Linked DNA regions of Homo sapiens: region 1 is linked to region 2. The links come from fine-mapping of genetic effects on gene expression. Tissue or cell type: monocytes. Region 2 holds a variant in brackets; the other region holds the start of a gene. All regions are shown on one strand. Distances are between the middles of the regions.

Evidence for each region. PIP is the estimated chance that this variant, and not a neighbour inherited with it, causes the effect.
Region 1: it holds the start of PIK3R6, and the variant in region 2 is fine-mapped to the expression of PIK3R6 in monocytes (TOPMed, PIP 0.94).

The regions. Positions count from the first base shown.
Region 1 is chr17:8,863,917-8,872,077 of GRCh38, reverse strand. It overlaps PIK3R6 (phosphoinositide-3-kinase regulatory subunit 6), which reads left to right and starts at 4,404. Exons shown (of 20, transcript NM_001010855.4): 1 at 4,404-4,549. LOC107985071 (a long non-coding RNA gene) reads right to left here and starts at 4,304. Exons shown (of 2, transcript XR_001752787.2): 1 at 4,073-4,304; 2 at 3,045-3,546. RefSeq lists enhancers at 4,276-4,425, 4,456-4,635, 6,459-6,808, 6,919-7,058, 7,109-7,178.
Region 2 is chr17:8,833,467-8,841,654 of GRCh38, reverse strand. PIK3R6 (phosphoinositide-3-kinase regulatory subunit 6) reads left to right here. Exons shown (of 20, transcript NM_001010855.4): 3 at 1,958-2,041; 4 at 3,000-3,091; 5 at 3,784-3,852; 6 at 4,732-4,864; 7 at 5,039-5,108; 8 at 6,199-6,382. Among named protein-coding and RNA genes, the nearest start is that of PIK3R6, 30 kb to the left of the region's middle. RefSeq lists an enhancer at 4,023-4,829. The variant A/C (reference allele first, on the strand shown) is at 3,595.

The sequences.
Region 1 (8,161 bases), 30 kb before region 2:
TGGGAGGGTAAAGAAATTGAGGAGGGGGAGGAGAGAGACCCTCCTTTTTTCCTCTTAGGGTCCTACAATGCTTGAGTGTTTTTATAATGGAAATATATTTATGGATTACCTAAGTAGTTTTTGTTCTTCTTGTTGTTGTTTGTTTGTGACGAAGTCTTGCTGTGTCACCCAGGCTGGAGTGCAATGGCACAATCTTGGCTCACTGCAACCTCTGCCTCCCAGGTTTGAGTGATTCTCCTGCCTCAGCCTCCCAAGTAGGTGGGATTACAGGCACCGGCCACCATGCCAGGCTAATTTTTGTATTTTTAGTAGAGACGAGGTTTCACCACATTGGCCAGGCTGGTCTCGAACTCCTGACCTCAGGTGATCCACCTGCCTCGGCCTCCCAGAGTGCTGGGATTACAGGCATGAGCCATCGTGCCTGGCCTACTTGACTAGTTTTTTAAACATTACAGCTTAACAAAAAAAGAACATTGATGGCATTTAAAATAAAAACTTCCCCACCACCACCAAAAATAAGAAAAATAGCTGAGAAGGTGACTGGTTGGATATGAAGCATAAATCCGCTTCTTCTATCACCCCAATTAGTCCTGATTCTGCATGCACTCTGCCAAATAACGCTGCTGGAAGTAAAGGATGGAAAATTCCCGAGGTGTGCACTGTTCCTCCCTTTCCACAGCCACAGCAGACAGTACTAGTTGATAACGGATTTCCAGGGCAATGCTGATGCTGCCAGTCCAGGGACTACCCTTAGCGAACCAGTGGCTTAGAGCATGACGCTGTCCTGCCTGCCTCTGGGCCGTGGGCAAGAGCTGGAGGGACTGCACCAGAGGCAAAGGTGCCCCGCAGTTGGGTACTGCCTGTGCCGAGGCAGTGTGTCGAGTCTCACCTCCACCAGGGATGAGAGCGTTTAAACTTAACCTATCTGTGTAACTGTAGCTGACTCACGAGGTGATTGTTTAAACGAATCAAAATGTGTTTTCCTAACAGCTCTTTTCTGGTTTATTACCTCTCACGGTTTTCTAAAAATGGGTCCTGCCAACCAGAGAGCTATCTGTGTGGGTGGCAGTCATGAATTTGGGGTAGAAAAGTGGGGAGTTGAGAATTAGAATGGAATTACAGTGCTCTGAATGGGCTTCGAAGACAATTTGGATATGTCTGTGAAAAAAATCTAGGAGGGAGGAACCGACGCTAATGAGTCAGGGTCACATGGGGAGAAGAGAGACAGGAAAAAGCACAAAAGCCCACCCCATTCCAGGCTGCCCGCTCCAATGGCATGGCATGGAGGAGGGACGTCGGGATCCTCAGAACTATCCACAGAGGATTTTTGAATAGTTTGCCAAGAGACGTGTGATGTACACTCCCTTCATCCTCCTACATAATCTTTAGTAAAATTGACTTTGCTTATTAGTATTTTATGTAAGTGGATTCCTTAGAAAACTGAAATGACAAATTCTGCCGCCTTCGATGCTGAATAATCCCAGAGCAGCTCCCACGGTGGGTGGCACTGCAGGTGAGGACACAAGCGACCCTGGGGACCTCTTTTCCTAAGCATGTAATTCTTGCCTGACTCCAATACTGTGGTCCTGCAGACCTCCGCAATGCTGGTACCTGGCCCTCCTCACCCGTGGCTCTGTCCACAGTTGCAAGAAGATTTAATTTTTGTTTAAAGCTCTCAGTGGCTTTGTAATGGATTAGAAAATGGATGAGGATGGATTGGAAACAGTGGTTCATCTGTAGAGAAGGTAAGTAACTTTGTAACCCCAAGGCGAGTTATGTAAACAGACTTCCAAACACCCTGGCTGAGATAGGAGAACCTGAAGAGAGGCCATTGCAGCTATGCCCAGAAGGGTCACCAGGAGTGGGGACCCTCACTTGGCAGAGGAGGGTGGCAGAAGGAGGAGGAGGAAGGGGAGTGACAATAGATGGTGGGCCTTCTGCTTCTGTATCTTGGGCATTGATCATTCTGGGGGGTCTTTGCCTCCATTAGCTGACCAGGTCATCTGGGAACTAGTACAGTGAAAGCAGGGAACCTTAATTTTTACAGTTCTGATGCTGACGGATCATTTGCCTTTTGGCAGGGAAAGAGGGGGCTGCTCTTTGGAGACTGGTGCAGATGAGAAACCTGGTAAGAGCACAGCCTGGAAAACCCAGATTAAACAAATCCTAAGAACATGGTCTGGAGAGGAAAGACATGGCTGGGATTGGCAAAAGGGGTAGTGCTGCCTTGCCTTGGTGATGGTAGGGACGGTGCACTGGGGTCCGTGGGGGAACTTGGTCCTTCCTATTGTCACCTCCTCCTCCCACTGTCCTTTGTTCCTGGCTGGCGGTCAGCCGTGTGCACTCAAAAATGAAAGCACCCTAGCTCCTCTTTGCAAGGGACAGCTCTGGGGCTCTCTATGGTCACCAAGCTGCCCCCTCTATGGGTACCACAGCAAATGCAGTTGCAGAAATGGCAGCTGATGATAAAGAGAGCAGTGCACCCACAAGAAGTGACCTCGGCTTGTGATTTCCGATTCAGTTAAGCCAAGGCTGATAAGGAGAGGCGCTGCCCAGGGTGGCCACACTGCCCAGCTGCTGCTGAGTCTGGAACCTGCAGGGGCTGAGTTCTTGGTCCTTTATTCTGTCCTGGGCGTATTCGTTTCCTTCGTTCAGTCACCCATTTGCTTCATAAATAAGCCAAGCATTCTCTTAACACTCTTTCACCCTGTGATGGACGGAATAATGAACAACACTCTAGCCCCTGCTCTTTCAGGACTCATTGAGGGAGGAACAAGGCAGACATGTGAGCTGAGAACGCTAATACAAAGATGCAAGATAGAATGTGACTTCAGTCACATGAAGGGGACAGAAAAGAAGCAGTTATGGGAGGAAGGCACAGCAATAGAGTAAATGATTTACATTTCTGGACTTTTTTTCCAAATAGCTTCCTCTGCAAAATGAAAGGTCAGCATAGAACCTAGTCAAGCCCCTACGGGAAAGGATCAGTGACTTCACAGCCCCAAAGCTCTCTGAGTTGAGCCAAGTGACAAACTCCAACAGGCTTAATCCAAAAAAGAATGGAATTTATTGGATCATGTACAATGAACAGTCCAAGAGTAGATTCAGCCCCAGAATTTCAGGCATAGCTGGATCCAGCACTCAAACCCTGCTGTCAGCAATCTGTCACTCTCTAGAGCCATTTACCCATTAGGCCCAACGGGATGACAGCATAGAATCTGTGAGTTTTTCAAAGCTCTAGAAATGTGTCAGAGACTCTCCCAAATAGTGTTTGACTTCAAAATGTGAAAAAAAGAAAATGACAAAGTAGCAAATGTGTCACCATGCGGTTGATCAACTTCCCCCAGCAGGTCTACTGTTCCTGCCCAGCACTGCTCTCTCCTAATTGCCAAGGACAGCAGATGCTTCTTCATTCTCTTCACCTGTGTCCTCTCCACAATCATTGGCGTCGTTGACCATTGTCTCCTCCTTGGCATTCTGTCTTCTGCCAGCATCCCTGGCACTCCACTTTCCTCCTGCCTCTTAGGCTTGTTTTTTTGTTCTTCTCTGATAAATAATGAATGACAAGGGATGAGCCAGGAGAAGGGTTGGGAAGTGATTCCCACAGCCTGGATAGTTAAGAGACTGCAGTACTTCTGGGAGGGGCTGGAGTGAGGGGATAAAGCATGAGGTTGGAGTTTAGGGAGGGACCAGATCAAGAAGGGTCTGGCAAGTCACACTGAGGAGTTTGGCCATTCTCTTTAAAGTAATAAGGAGCCATTGAAGGTTGTAGCAGGAGTGTAACATGAATAGATTTGTGTTTCACTCTTAGAAAGAGACCTTTGGCTGTGGGGTGAAGGACCTCAGGCTATTGTAGTGTTTCAGGAGAAAGACCATGGTAGTCAGGTGAAACAGTGACAGCCATAGGGATGGAAGAAAGTGGAGGATCCATGACCTATTGACAGGGCTTGGTGCAGTTTAGATGTAACAGGCGAGGAAGAGGGAGGCGTTAGGATGATACCGAGGTTGCTGATTCTGAGGCAGGAAACAGAGAAGTGGGCTTAGAGGGAGAAATGATGAGCTCGGTTTGTACCTGTTGAGATGGAGGTGCTTGAGGGACATCTGGCTGGCCATGTCCAGGGGTGGGGGATGGTTGGTGAGTCTGGAGCTTGAGAGAGAGGTCAGGGCTCCCTGCATCAGTCCCTCCCCCGTCAACACCAGAGGGAGTCTCTTGGGAGGTGTCCCCCTCCTGCCCCATAAAATTGGTCACATTCGATCAGAATAAAGGACCTCCAGTGACCGTGGGTCATGCTTCTTTAGAAAGGATCCTCACAGCAAAATGCATTCTGGGAGGAGCTTCGAGGGCCACAAGGAAGGGGAAGGAAGAGGAGGGGACAGAGCTGTGAGACATCGAGCTTTTCTTTGCAGATCTGAAGAGCACAGTCAAGACCACAGACACCCGTGGAGGCTCCCCCAAGACATCTGCTTCTCTGGGACTGGGGACCTCGCTCAGGACCGTGGGGAGTTGGCTGAAGGACTTGGGGAGCCCAGAAGCTGCCACCGAACCAAGGTAAGTGCTGGCTTGGATGGAGATCGCCAGGCAGGCAGATCTGAGCAGAACAGATAGAGGGGTGGAACGGAGGGACCTGGAAGGGGAGCCCCTGGGGGGGCTGAAACACCCCTGGCTCTTATTTATCCAGGCTCAGGGCTGCCAGGGCCGTCTTTCTGAGAAGGGTGACCTCAGACACTGCAGGGTAATTCTGCCAAGTTAAGATTGTTTCAGCCCATTTTCACAAGATGAAAAGACACGGGACCCTGTGAGAAGGACTCTCCTTTCTTCTGGAATCCTGTACATGCTGTTAATAATAGGACTAATGATTGATGCCCGGTGCTGCAGAGTACACCCATTTTCCCATTTGATTCTCACCAGCATTTAGAGGTTGACTGGATAAGTGTTTTAGTGCCATTTTATAGAACAGAAGACTGAGGCTTAGGGAGATGAAGCAACTTGCCAAAGATTGCAGAGTGGGTTAGCAAGGAGCAGGACTCAGTGTGAAACATCTGGGTCCCAGTCTGTGCCCTTTCTGGGACATCATCTGCCCATCACTTTCCTGGGGAATTTGGTGAAAGTCATGCTGGTCTGGCTGATTCTCTTCCTATACACAAATCCAGTATCTTCTATGTGTGCCAGAGTCTGACCGAGGCCTGGTCTCTGTCCTTGAAGGGCTGACTGCTTGCAAAGAGGGTCTGAACACAGCTGCGAGTGACCAACTCAGAACCTTCAGGGTCCTCAGCGAGCCAGGAGGTGTGTGGTGTGTGCAGGATGAAAGAGACTGCAGGGTGCGGGCTCAGGGAGGGTCCCGTGGAAGGTGGTGCCTGGCTGAGGCTCAAGGGAGGACCTGGTGTGCAAAGAGGAGGCAAGAGGCACCTCAGCAATGGGGAGCAAAGTGTGCAAACCCCCAGAGGCAGGAAAGCAAGTGGGAAAGTCAGGTGTTGGGGGGAGCACAGCTAGAGGGGGTGTGTGGAGCACTCGCAGGCCGGTCCTTTTTTGTTGTTGTTGAGACAGTCTCACGCTTTTGCGCAGGCTGGAGTGTAGTGGTGCGATCTCGGCTCACTGCAACCTCCGTCTCCTGGGTTCAAGCGATTCTCCTGCCTCAGCCTCCCAAGTAGCTGGGACTACAGGCACACACCACCACGCCTGGCTAATTTTTTGTATTTTTAGTAGTAATTTTTTGTGTTTTCACCGTGTTAGCCAGGATGGTCTTGATCTCCTGACCTCGTGATCCACCCACCTCGGCCTCCCATAGTGCTGGGATTACAGGCATGAGCCACAGCGCCTGGCCCGGTCCATTTATTTATTTAGCTCTATGTGGTTTTCAAATATCATCTCATTTAGTCTCATGACAAGCCTATGAGGTAGGTGTTGTTGTCAGGTCCCCTTTAAGATAGGGAAACTGAGGCACGGAGGTTTTAAGCAAGCAGCCCAAGTTGCCCTATTAACAGGATTGGAATGCCACCTGCCTGGCCACCATGCCCCGCTGCCTCACACTAGAACCTGCTGCAGGCCCTACACTGTCTCCACGAAAGCGCCTCGGCTGACACGGTGGCTGCAGATGCCAAGCTGCAGTCATCGCCATCTGGTCCCTGCTGCATTCAGGCCCCACCTGAATTCAGATCCCACCAAGCTTCCCTGCCCCTGGGAACAATGCTCCCCCACCCCCACCCCACTGGCTCTTTCATATCCAGGTGTTTCCTTCCAGCCAGAAGCAGACACAGCTGAGGAAACAGGCCTGTCCTTGTCCACGGGGGCCAGCCAGGGCAGCAGGACCCTCACCTCCCGGCTCCTTGGGAATCTGAGAAGTAGACCTCATGGGGGCAAGGGCTAAAGGTTGAGGGGGCCCCCTCAGGACCCAGAGCTCTGTCCTCTCACTCCCTTAGTCCCTCACTGCCAGCTCACTCACCACACGCTCCGATCCAAAAAAAAAAAAAACACAGCTATGACGTCTGGCAAGCCTGAGCTGCCCCTGAAACCCTGAGGGCACGAGGCAGCTCTGGTGGGAGAAGAGGGGAGGCAACAGAGGCAGGTGACCCAGGCTCTGCAGGTCCCCTCTCTCTGTGCCACAGGAGTGGCTGGAGGACAGGAGGCAGACAGAGTGTGGCCCTGGGAAGCTCCCCGTCTTTTCTGCCAGGGCTTTATTCCTGCAGCTGTGGTATAGGGAGGCCTGGAAGCTCCACATCTTTTCTGCCCAGGCTTTATTCCTGCAGGTATAGGGAGGCCTAGGTGGTGGGTTCTTCTGTCTGAACAGCTTGTCCGAGAAGCCAGCAATGGTGAGCTGGGGGGATGGGGGCACAAGGGACAGTCAGATCTGGAATCTTCATGTTCAGAATCTTCAGGTTCAGAAACTCTGAACCTGAGCCAGGCTTCCTCAGATCTTCCTCCAAGCCCTCTTACTTCAGTCTTCTCCTCTATCCAGGAGGTCACCCCCACTTTATCTCACACCAACAACAGGGAGCAGCAGCTGTGAACAGGTGGTCCCCATTTGCTTCTTTTTGCCGTGTCCATAGAAGGCTTCTATGGTTCTGTGGTCAGTCCTTGGGCTTGTTGTACCCCAAGGGAGTGATGAGCTGTGTGTGTGCACCTGGCCTGCGACTTGTTCAGTGCTGATGTTCTGTGTTTAAGGAAGAATGCTCTCTGAATCCCAATTCATTCATCCCTTCATTCTTTGTCTCTGATCTCATCCCTCTGCCAGGAACTGTGAAGGGGCTGGGTGCGGTGGCTCACGCCTGTAATCCCAGCACTTTGGGAGGCCGAGGTGGGTGGATCACGAGGTCAAGAGATCGAGACCATCCTGGCCAACACGGTGAAACCCCGTCTCTACTAAAAATACAACAAATTAGCTGGGCGTGGTGGCGGGCGCCTGTGGTCCCAGGTACTCGGGAGGCTGAGGCTGGAGAATCACCTGAACCCAGTAGGCAGAGGTTGCAGTGAGACGAGATTGCGCCACTGCACTCCAGTCTGGCGACAGAGTGAGACTCTGTCTAAAAAAAAAAAAAAAAAAAAAAAAAAAAGAGCTGTGAAGGACCTGGGTTATAAGTTAGAAGGATCTGTTAGTTATAAGTTAACTTAGAACTAACAAGTTAGCCCACCACAGCTTCATGGTCACCAGCAGAAGACATGAGACTCCAGAGTCAGAGACAAAGAACTCTATTACTCACAGCACAACTAGGAGCATGAACATTGTGATTATAGGTCCCCCTTTCCCCTAAGTCCTAGGGGCGCCGCAAGGAGCCCAATCCAAATGGACTCTGTTGCATCATAGCCCAGGAACCCTGAGCCTAGGAAACCCCAAATTTTCATGACGAGCTGCAAACAAACCTGCCCAACTTTTACCCTGAAAGGAGACATTATCTCTATTATATTGACAGCAAATTAGTCTTCTGTCCTAGAATGGACAGTATCTTCCAAGGCTGTTTGCTATACAAACGTATTTGAAAAGATGGTGCAGAAGAATGCTCACCAGGCATGCACAAACAGAAACCTATGGAGAATTGTCTCCCAACATCTTCCTAGTGTCCCCCACTCATTGCACCCCAAACGCTGTCCCTTAAAAACACTGGGCACCCTTGCAACTCAGGACTTGGCTATTCTCTTTGCTTAGAGCGTTCTTCCTGCAGATACCGC
Region 2 (8,188 bases):
ATTAAATGGTAAGGAAGACTTATCCAAGACTATTGCATTAGGAAAGAGAAAGCAGTCTCAACTTGGAATAAAGAAAAGCCAGTTGGGGATTTATAGCCAATGAGCAGAGTGAAGGGGTCAGCGGATGGAAAATTCCTAAGAGGAGACATCAAGGGTCGGGACATTCTTGCTAAACTGAGCTAACAGGATTTTTGCTAGAGGCACAAGTCAAATTCTTATACATCGACGGTAAGGGATGAAGGGGTTCAGGAGATATCAAGAGTGGAGGACTCCAACCTAAACTGATTTGGCAGGATTCTTGCTAAAACTGGGATGGGCAGGCCAAAGGCAGGACAGGAGCCAGGGCTGAGCCCTAGTGAAGAAGAGGGCTAAGAGGAGGCTGAGTAAGGTTTGGTCAAGGAGAGAGTCTTTGTTACCACCTGTCCTGGTATGTATCTGATACGATTCTTTAAATTGACTTTAGATTTTAGCTTTATACTTGGGGCGGGGGGTGGAGACTACCAGAAAAGACAGGGTGCTGTAGGCTTCAAAAAAATAAATAAATAAAATAAATAAGTTTTAGCTTCATGCATGGATTCAGGAACTACTAAAAATAATGGCAAAGGCTTGGCGTGGTGGCTCATGCCTGTCATCCCAGCACTTTGGAAGGCCGAGGCGGGCAGATCACGAGGTCAGGAGATTGAGACCATCCTAGCTAACACGGTGAAATCCCGTCTCTGCTAAAAATACAAAAAATTAGCCAGGCGTGGTGGCAGGCGCCTGTAGTCCCAGCTACTCGGGAGGCTGAGGCAGGAGAATGGCGTGAACCCAGGAGGCGGAGATTGCAGTGAGCCAAGATTGCGCCACTGCACTCCAGCCTGGATGACAGAGTTAGACTCCGTCTCACACACACACACACACACAAAAATAATAATAATAATGGCAAAAACTGCAATTACTTTTGCACAAACCTAATAGTTTTTTATATATATATTTTATATATATATATTTCATATATATTTGGAGGATATATATATTTCATATATATTTGGAGGATATACATTTCATATACATATTTGGAGGATATATACTTCATATACGTATTTGGAGACTGTATATATACTTGATATACATATTTGGAGGCCATATATATATTTCATATATATTTGGAGGCTATATATATTTCATATATATATTTGGAGGCTATATATATTTCATATATATATATTTGGAGGCTATATATATTTCATATACATATTTGGAGGCTATATATATTTCATATACATATTTGGAGGCTATATATATTTCATATACATATTTGGAGGCTATATATATTTCATATACATATTTGGAGGCTATATATATTTCATATACATATTTGTAGGCTGTATATATTTCATATACATATTTGTAGGCTGTATATATTTCATATATATATTTGTAGGCTGTATATATTTCATATATATATTTGGAGGCTATATATATTTCATATATATATTTGGAGGCTATATTTCATATATATATTTGGAGGCTATATATATTTCATATATATTTGGAGGCTATATATTTCATATACATATTTGGAGGATATATATATTTCATATATATGTTTGGAGGATATATACATTTCACATATATATGAAAATACATACATGTATTTTCTAACATGCATTAAAATAAATGCATAACTATTCAGATTTTAAGGTCGTTTGTGTACCACCTAAAATTGTCCTACATACCACCAGTGGTACACATACTGCACTTTGGGAAATGCAGGTTTTACAAAGAACACAGAAACGTGGAAGGGAAGGCTATATTCCAGCCCTGGCTGGCATGCTGGCTGCCAGCTCTAAGTCGATTACTTCGGGCACCTCCTGAGGCTCAGAGAAATGGCTAAAGACACTCTCGGAAGGAATGGAGGTGGGACGAGGGTGAGGTTCAGTGGACTGAGTTTCCTCCCACCCCTACCACTGCCCAGATGTGGAGCTGGACCTCCAGAGGAGCGTGCAGGCTGTGCTCCGGGAGCTCAGCACCCAGGCCCCTGCCCTGCAGAGCAACCAAGGTAAGAGCCAGCTGGCAGCAGCAGCTGGTCCCTCTGACCTCCACCCAACCCCAGCCAACAATACACGCGCATACAGGAAAGAGCCCCGGCCTGGAGCTCAGGGGGCAAGGGTCGTCTCACCAAACCCCTTTCCTGCTGGAAATACCTAGAGCCTGAAGGACTGAGAAGGCTTCTCTGCTCCCTAGTTCAACCCTCCCAGCAACTGCCACAGAGCACATTGGGGATCTGCCACCCTTTTTCTTTCCTTTTTTTTTTCTTTTGTTTTTGAGATGGAGTCCTACTCTGTCACCCAGGCTGCAGTGCAGTGGTGCAAACTCGGCTCACCACAACCTCTGCCTCCCTGGTTCAAGCGATCCTCCTGCCTCAGCCTCCCAAGTAGCTGAGATTACAGGCGTGTGCCACCATGCCCTGCTAATTTTTGTATTTTTCGTAGAGATGCAGTTTCACCATGTTGGCCAGGTTGGTCTCGAACTCCTGACCGCAAGTGACCCGCCTGTCTCAGCCTCCCAAAGTGCTGGGATTGCAGGCATGAGCCACGGCACCCGGCCTGCCACCCTCTTTGTTAACCACCTTCCCTAGCTCCACTTCCAAACCTAATTCCCCTCAGCACTCCAGGCCTGCAGGACTTCCAGAATGTGGCTCGGAGCACACACCTGCAAGCACTGCTGCTCTGTGGTCCACACGCATACACCTGTCACACACCTGTCCCCACTGGTGTGTCCCACCTGCCCTCCTTTCTGCCCTGGGAATTCACTGTCCACAAAGGGCTACAGACTAGAACTCCCCACTTGGGAGGAGCCCACCCAGGTGCACCTGGAGCCAAGCGCTGGTGGCGGGGTCACACCCGTGGCTGGTCAGAGCTGCAGCTGAGGCTCCAGGGCTCAGGGTCCTGCTCAGAGGGGTCTCCTCTAAGAACTGCCCACCTGCTCATGCCGGGCTCCCCTTTCTCCTGGCCCAGGCATGTGGAGGTGGTCCCTGCACAAGAAGGTCGAGCGAGATCCCGGTAAGAGCCCAGTGCTGGTCCGCATTCTTCTCAGAGAACTGGAGAAGGTGAGTTCCTGGACCTCAGGGAGGAAGACGGGGATGAAAGGAAGAGAGGGGCCAATTGGGCAGGGGCTCAGTCCTGGCAGCGCTATATCTCATAAGCTTTGGTTGCCTGCATGATTTTTACCATATGCATCTCCCTCCTGTACTTTTACGTAAGCAGTATTTTCTTTACGTCGACTCTCATTGTTTTACTTGAATAAACATCTTTCAAAAAGAAGCACTATAACGCGACCACAAATGGAAAACCCGCATCACTTGTCAGAAACAGAAGGTACCTATAAACATAAATATACGACTATTGACGTTTCTCAAAATTATCCTCGGGCCACCTAAATTCTCCTTCACACTACCCAATGTTGTACTTTGCAACCGTTTGGGAAACACTGCACTCAAGGGAGGCTCCGAGCTGAGGACTTGTTTGTTGCTTTGCTGCGACTCCTACCCTAATTAAATTTGGCCCCTCACCTGCAGAGTTCTCTGAGGCCCCCCCACGCTCCCACACCCTC[A/C]CTGAGGGGCTTCCTCACCTGTGTGCCCTCCCCTCCCCACTCCTCTATCCAGAGCAGACAATGGCCCTTTGCTCTCCCCCTGGCTGCCTTCCACCCCATCTCCTGCCCACTCCCAGCCTAGACTGCCTCCCGCTATGAAGTGGGGATTCCCCCAGCCCAATACCTGTCACGTGATCTCCTGTTTTCCAGGCGGAAAGCCAGGACCTCCGGCATGTCATCATTCCCTTGCTGCACACTGTAATGTACGTGCTCACCAAGGTGAGCTGGGGACTGAGGTCGAGGTGGTAGTGGTGACCTGCATGTGGCTGGGCTGGACACTCTCCCCTTAGTGGGCACTCAGTCTCCGCCAGGATGAGCCTAGAAAATCCCTTGGATTGCCTGCCCTAAACTGGCTTCTGAGCACTAGCCACCCCCTTTCCCTCCCATATGGAGAGAGAACTCTGGAGAGACAATGGCCTTGAAAGGCAGGATGAGGTCTTTGGGTTTGCTCCTGTGTGCAGTGCAACAGGAGACATCACTGATCCCTACACAGAGAAGAGACATGATACTCATGTGGTTAATGTCTCAGGAGGAGTAATCGGGAGCTGCGTGTTGTTGCAGCGGGTGGGAGTGGTGGTTAAGGCAGGCAGGAAGACCAAGTCTGGGGTTGCTGGAGAGTCCAGGGTCAAGATGGGGCTTAGCTCCGGCAGAGACGGAGGGCACACTGAGGTCGGGAGGGAGAGGGGGGCCTCCCGGGCACTGTGGAGCATTTCAGGCCTGTGGGATGCAAGGAGGAGCAAAGGAGACTGAGGAAGTGCCTCCATGGTTTTGAGCCTGGAGAACCGCAGGAATGTGCTTCCCTGATGGAGCAGGAGGGCTGGGAGGAAGTTGATTTGCTTGCATAACTTGATGCAATGAATTTTTATCTTGGTAAGTTGGGGCGGGGCGACAAATGGATGTCTTACAGGTGCTGGGAGAAGAGGCTGGAAGGTGTGGGTTTGGGAGAGAGCTGTGAGCCCAGGTCTGGCTGTTAGGCCTGACCTTCCACCTCTTCTCCCAAGCCCCTCCCCGGAAACTCCCCCGGGACCCTTCACCTCCCCCTCCTCCCTCTTACCTCCACCTCCTCCCTCTCACCTCCCCCTCCTCCCTCTCACCCAGGCCACAGGAATCACAGAAGAGCTCTACCAGAGAATCTATGCCTTTTGCACAAGGTTACTGACCCTGCCCACCCCCTACTGCACAGTCGCCTTGGACTGCGCGATAAGGCTGAAAACGGAGATGGCTGTCCCAGGTAAGAGTCACTGGGCATCTTTGTCTCCCACGCTGCACCTCCAACATTGCCCAGGGTCTTTCCTTTTTCTCCAGGATACCGGGGAGCTCAAAAGCCTCCACACCTTCTGTAGGAAGGTGGAGAATGGGAGTCAGAGACTTGGGGGCTGTTTGGCCAAAGTGGTCTGGTTTGCAGGGACACTGTACCAAAGGATGGTCATTGCCGAACAGAACTTGACGAATGAGCTGTATCCCTACCAGGAGAGGTGAGTGGCCCCAGAAAAATTGCTACCTTCAGCCTCCTAAAACTGTTGTGGCTTTAGTGACTGCTCCCTGGCAGGAGGACAAAAGAGGAGGCTGGATTAAGAAGAGCCCTAGCAGACCTCCCCAGCCATGATATTTGTCCAGCAGTGGGGTGCGTTTGCCATTCAAGGTTGGCGCCATATTGTTTTCTGGAGACCACTGAACACAGGATAGGTCTTTCTTCTCAGGTTGGATTGGAAGCTACCCTGCTCACATGCAGAAGGTGGACATGGCCTCGGGGCCACTCTGGGGCTCTGTCATTCCACCTCCATCCTGCCCTTGGCCATAATGCAGCATCATACCAGCCAGGCAGCCAGAGGAGACTCCAGAATAGCCATAGCGGAGGGGCTCAGGCGCAAGTGCACAATGAAGCCAGAGGGCTTCCATGGGGGACGCCAAGCCTCTTAGATAAGACTGAGGAAGTGTCCCCTGCTCGTGTTGGGGAGAGGGGTGATGAAGTTGGGAGCGGCACCTCCCTCTTCTGCAGGCACCTCCACTAACTTGGCCCTGAAAGGCACAGCTTGAGTTTGGGGTGTGAGGTGCTGAGTTCATGAAAGATGCAAGGAGGCCCAGGGCACCCATGGGAGAGGTGGGGAGACACAGTGGGTGAGGAGGAGGGAGTAGGGGAGGTTGGCTCTCTGGTGTGATAAGAGTGATGAAAGAAGGTGAGATTCACTCAGAGTTCAGAACTCCAGTTCTGGCAGGAAGGATTTAGGGTCCCTCCTAGAGGGTGACCTGGTCCCTGGGCCAGGATGCTGAGAGAGGGAGCAGGATTGAGGCTGGAACTTTCCTAAACATGGGACTAGGCCTGCTTTCCTCTGTGGACAGTGGATTAGAGCTGCCCCTCTAGAAGGGCTGTGCATGCTCTTATTTGCCACAGTCCTCACCACTCCCTATTGTCATCCCACCCAGAGACTTTTGAATCTGAGACTCCTCTTTTTAGCAGAATTAAATTACTTGGAGGTGCTGCACAGCTCTGAGGGTGCCCATCCGGTGGCCCCTCTCCCATTAGTTACTATCAATCCCACCTCTCCCCTCTGCTTCTGCCCTCAGAGTGTTCCTCTTCGTGGATCCTGAGCTGGTGTCTGCGTCTGTGTGCAGTGCTCTGCTACTGGAGATCGAGGCGGCCCAGGCGCAGCAGACACCAGAGACCTGCATGCGCCACGTGGTCTCCCACGCCCTGCAGGCGGCTCTGGGGGAGGCCTGTCACGCAGGCGCTCTGCACAGGAAGCTGCAGGTAATGGCCCTGCCTGCAGCCCCTTGTCAGTCCCAGCCCTCGTCCCTGCATGCCCATACCAGTCATTCACCCTGCTCTTCCTCCTTCTCCTGTTTCGCATCACCTTTTCCCCCAAATCAAAAATTAATACATTTTGGCTGGGCGCAGTGGCTCACACCTATAACCCCAGCACTTTGGGAGGCTGAGGCGGGTGTATCACCTGAGGTCAGGAGTTCAAGACCAGCCTGGCCAACATGGCGAAATCCAGTCTCTACTAAAGATACAAAAACTAACTGGCCGTGGTGGCGGGCACCTGTAATCCTAGCTACTCTGGAGGCTGAGGCAGGAGAATAGCTTGAACCCGGAAAGTGGAGGTTGCAGTGAGCCAAGATTGTGCCACTGCACTCCAGCCTGGGTGACAGAGAGAGACTCCATTTCCAAAAAAAAAACCAATAATAAGATATAAGATAATGCCAGTATTCCTAGCAGCAGGGTGAATGAGTGTCTCAGCCCCGAAAGCAGGAATCTGGGTCACCACAACAGTAGCTACTACATCATCTCACTCGGAGTCAAAGCCAAAGTGATTGCAATGACCTATAAGAGCCTGGTGTGGTGGTTCATGCCTATAATTGCAGGTACTTGAGAGGCCGAGGCAGGAGGATTGCTTAAGGCCAGGGGTTTGAGACCAGCCTGGGCAACATAGCAAGACCCCATTTCTACAAAAAGTAATAAAAAAAAAAAAATACCAGACGCAGTGACATGTGTTTGCAGTCCCAGCTACTCGGAAGACAAGAGGATCACTTGAGCCAAGTTCAAGGCTGCAGTGAGCTGTGACTGTACCACTGCACTCTAGCCTGGGTAACAGAGAGACACCCCATCTCTAAAAATAAAAATACAAGAACCTCATCTTGAGGGCCTTGACCTGTTCCCATCTCTCTTCATTTCCTCTCTGGCCTGTCTCCTAACTTTCCCTCTCATTTCCTCTGCTCCAGCTAAACAAGCCTCCTCATTTGTCTCCCAACATGCACATGCCTAACATACTTGCACCCCAGGGCCTTTGCGCTGGCTACTCCCTATGCTTGGAACGTTCTCTTAGATACCTGCACGACTCACTCTTTTTTTTTTTTTTTTTTTTTTGAGACGAAGTCTTGCTCTGTTGCCCAGGCTGGAGTGCAGTGGCGTGATCTCGGCTCACTGCAAGCTCCGCCTCCTGGGTTCACGCCATTCTCCTGCCTCAGCCTCTCTGAGTAGCTGGGACTACAGGCGCCGGCCACCACACCCAGCTAATTTTTTCTATTTTTAGTAGAGACGGGGTTTCACCGTGGTCTCCATCTCCTGACCTCGTGATCCACCTACCCCGGCCTTCCAAAGTGCTGAGATTACAAGCGTGAGCCACCGCGCTGGGCTGCATGGCTCACTCTTTCACTTCAAGTCTTTACCTAAAAGTCACTTTCGGCCAAGCGCGGTGGTTCACGCCTGTAATCCCAACACTTTGGGAGGCCAAGGCAGGCAGATCATGAGGTCAGGAGATCGAGACCGTCCTGGCCAACATGGTGAAACCCCGTCTCTACTAAAAATACAAAAATTGGCTGGATGTGGTGGTGCGCACCTGTAGTCCCAGATACTCGGGAGGCTGAGGCAGGAGAATCGCTTGAACCCAGGAGGCAGAGGTTGCAATGAGCCAAAGTCACACCACTGCACTCCAGCCTGGGTGACAGAGCAAGACTCCGTCTCAAAAAAAAAAAAAAAAAAGTCACTTTCTCAGGGGGGGCTTCCCAGATCACACAATCTCTTTTGTTTGCTGCTGTATCCCAGCCCCTAGAACAA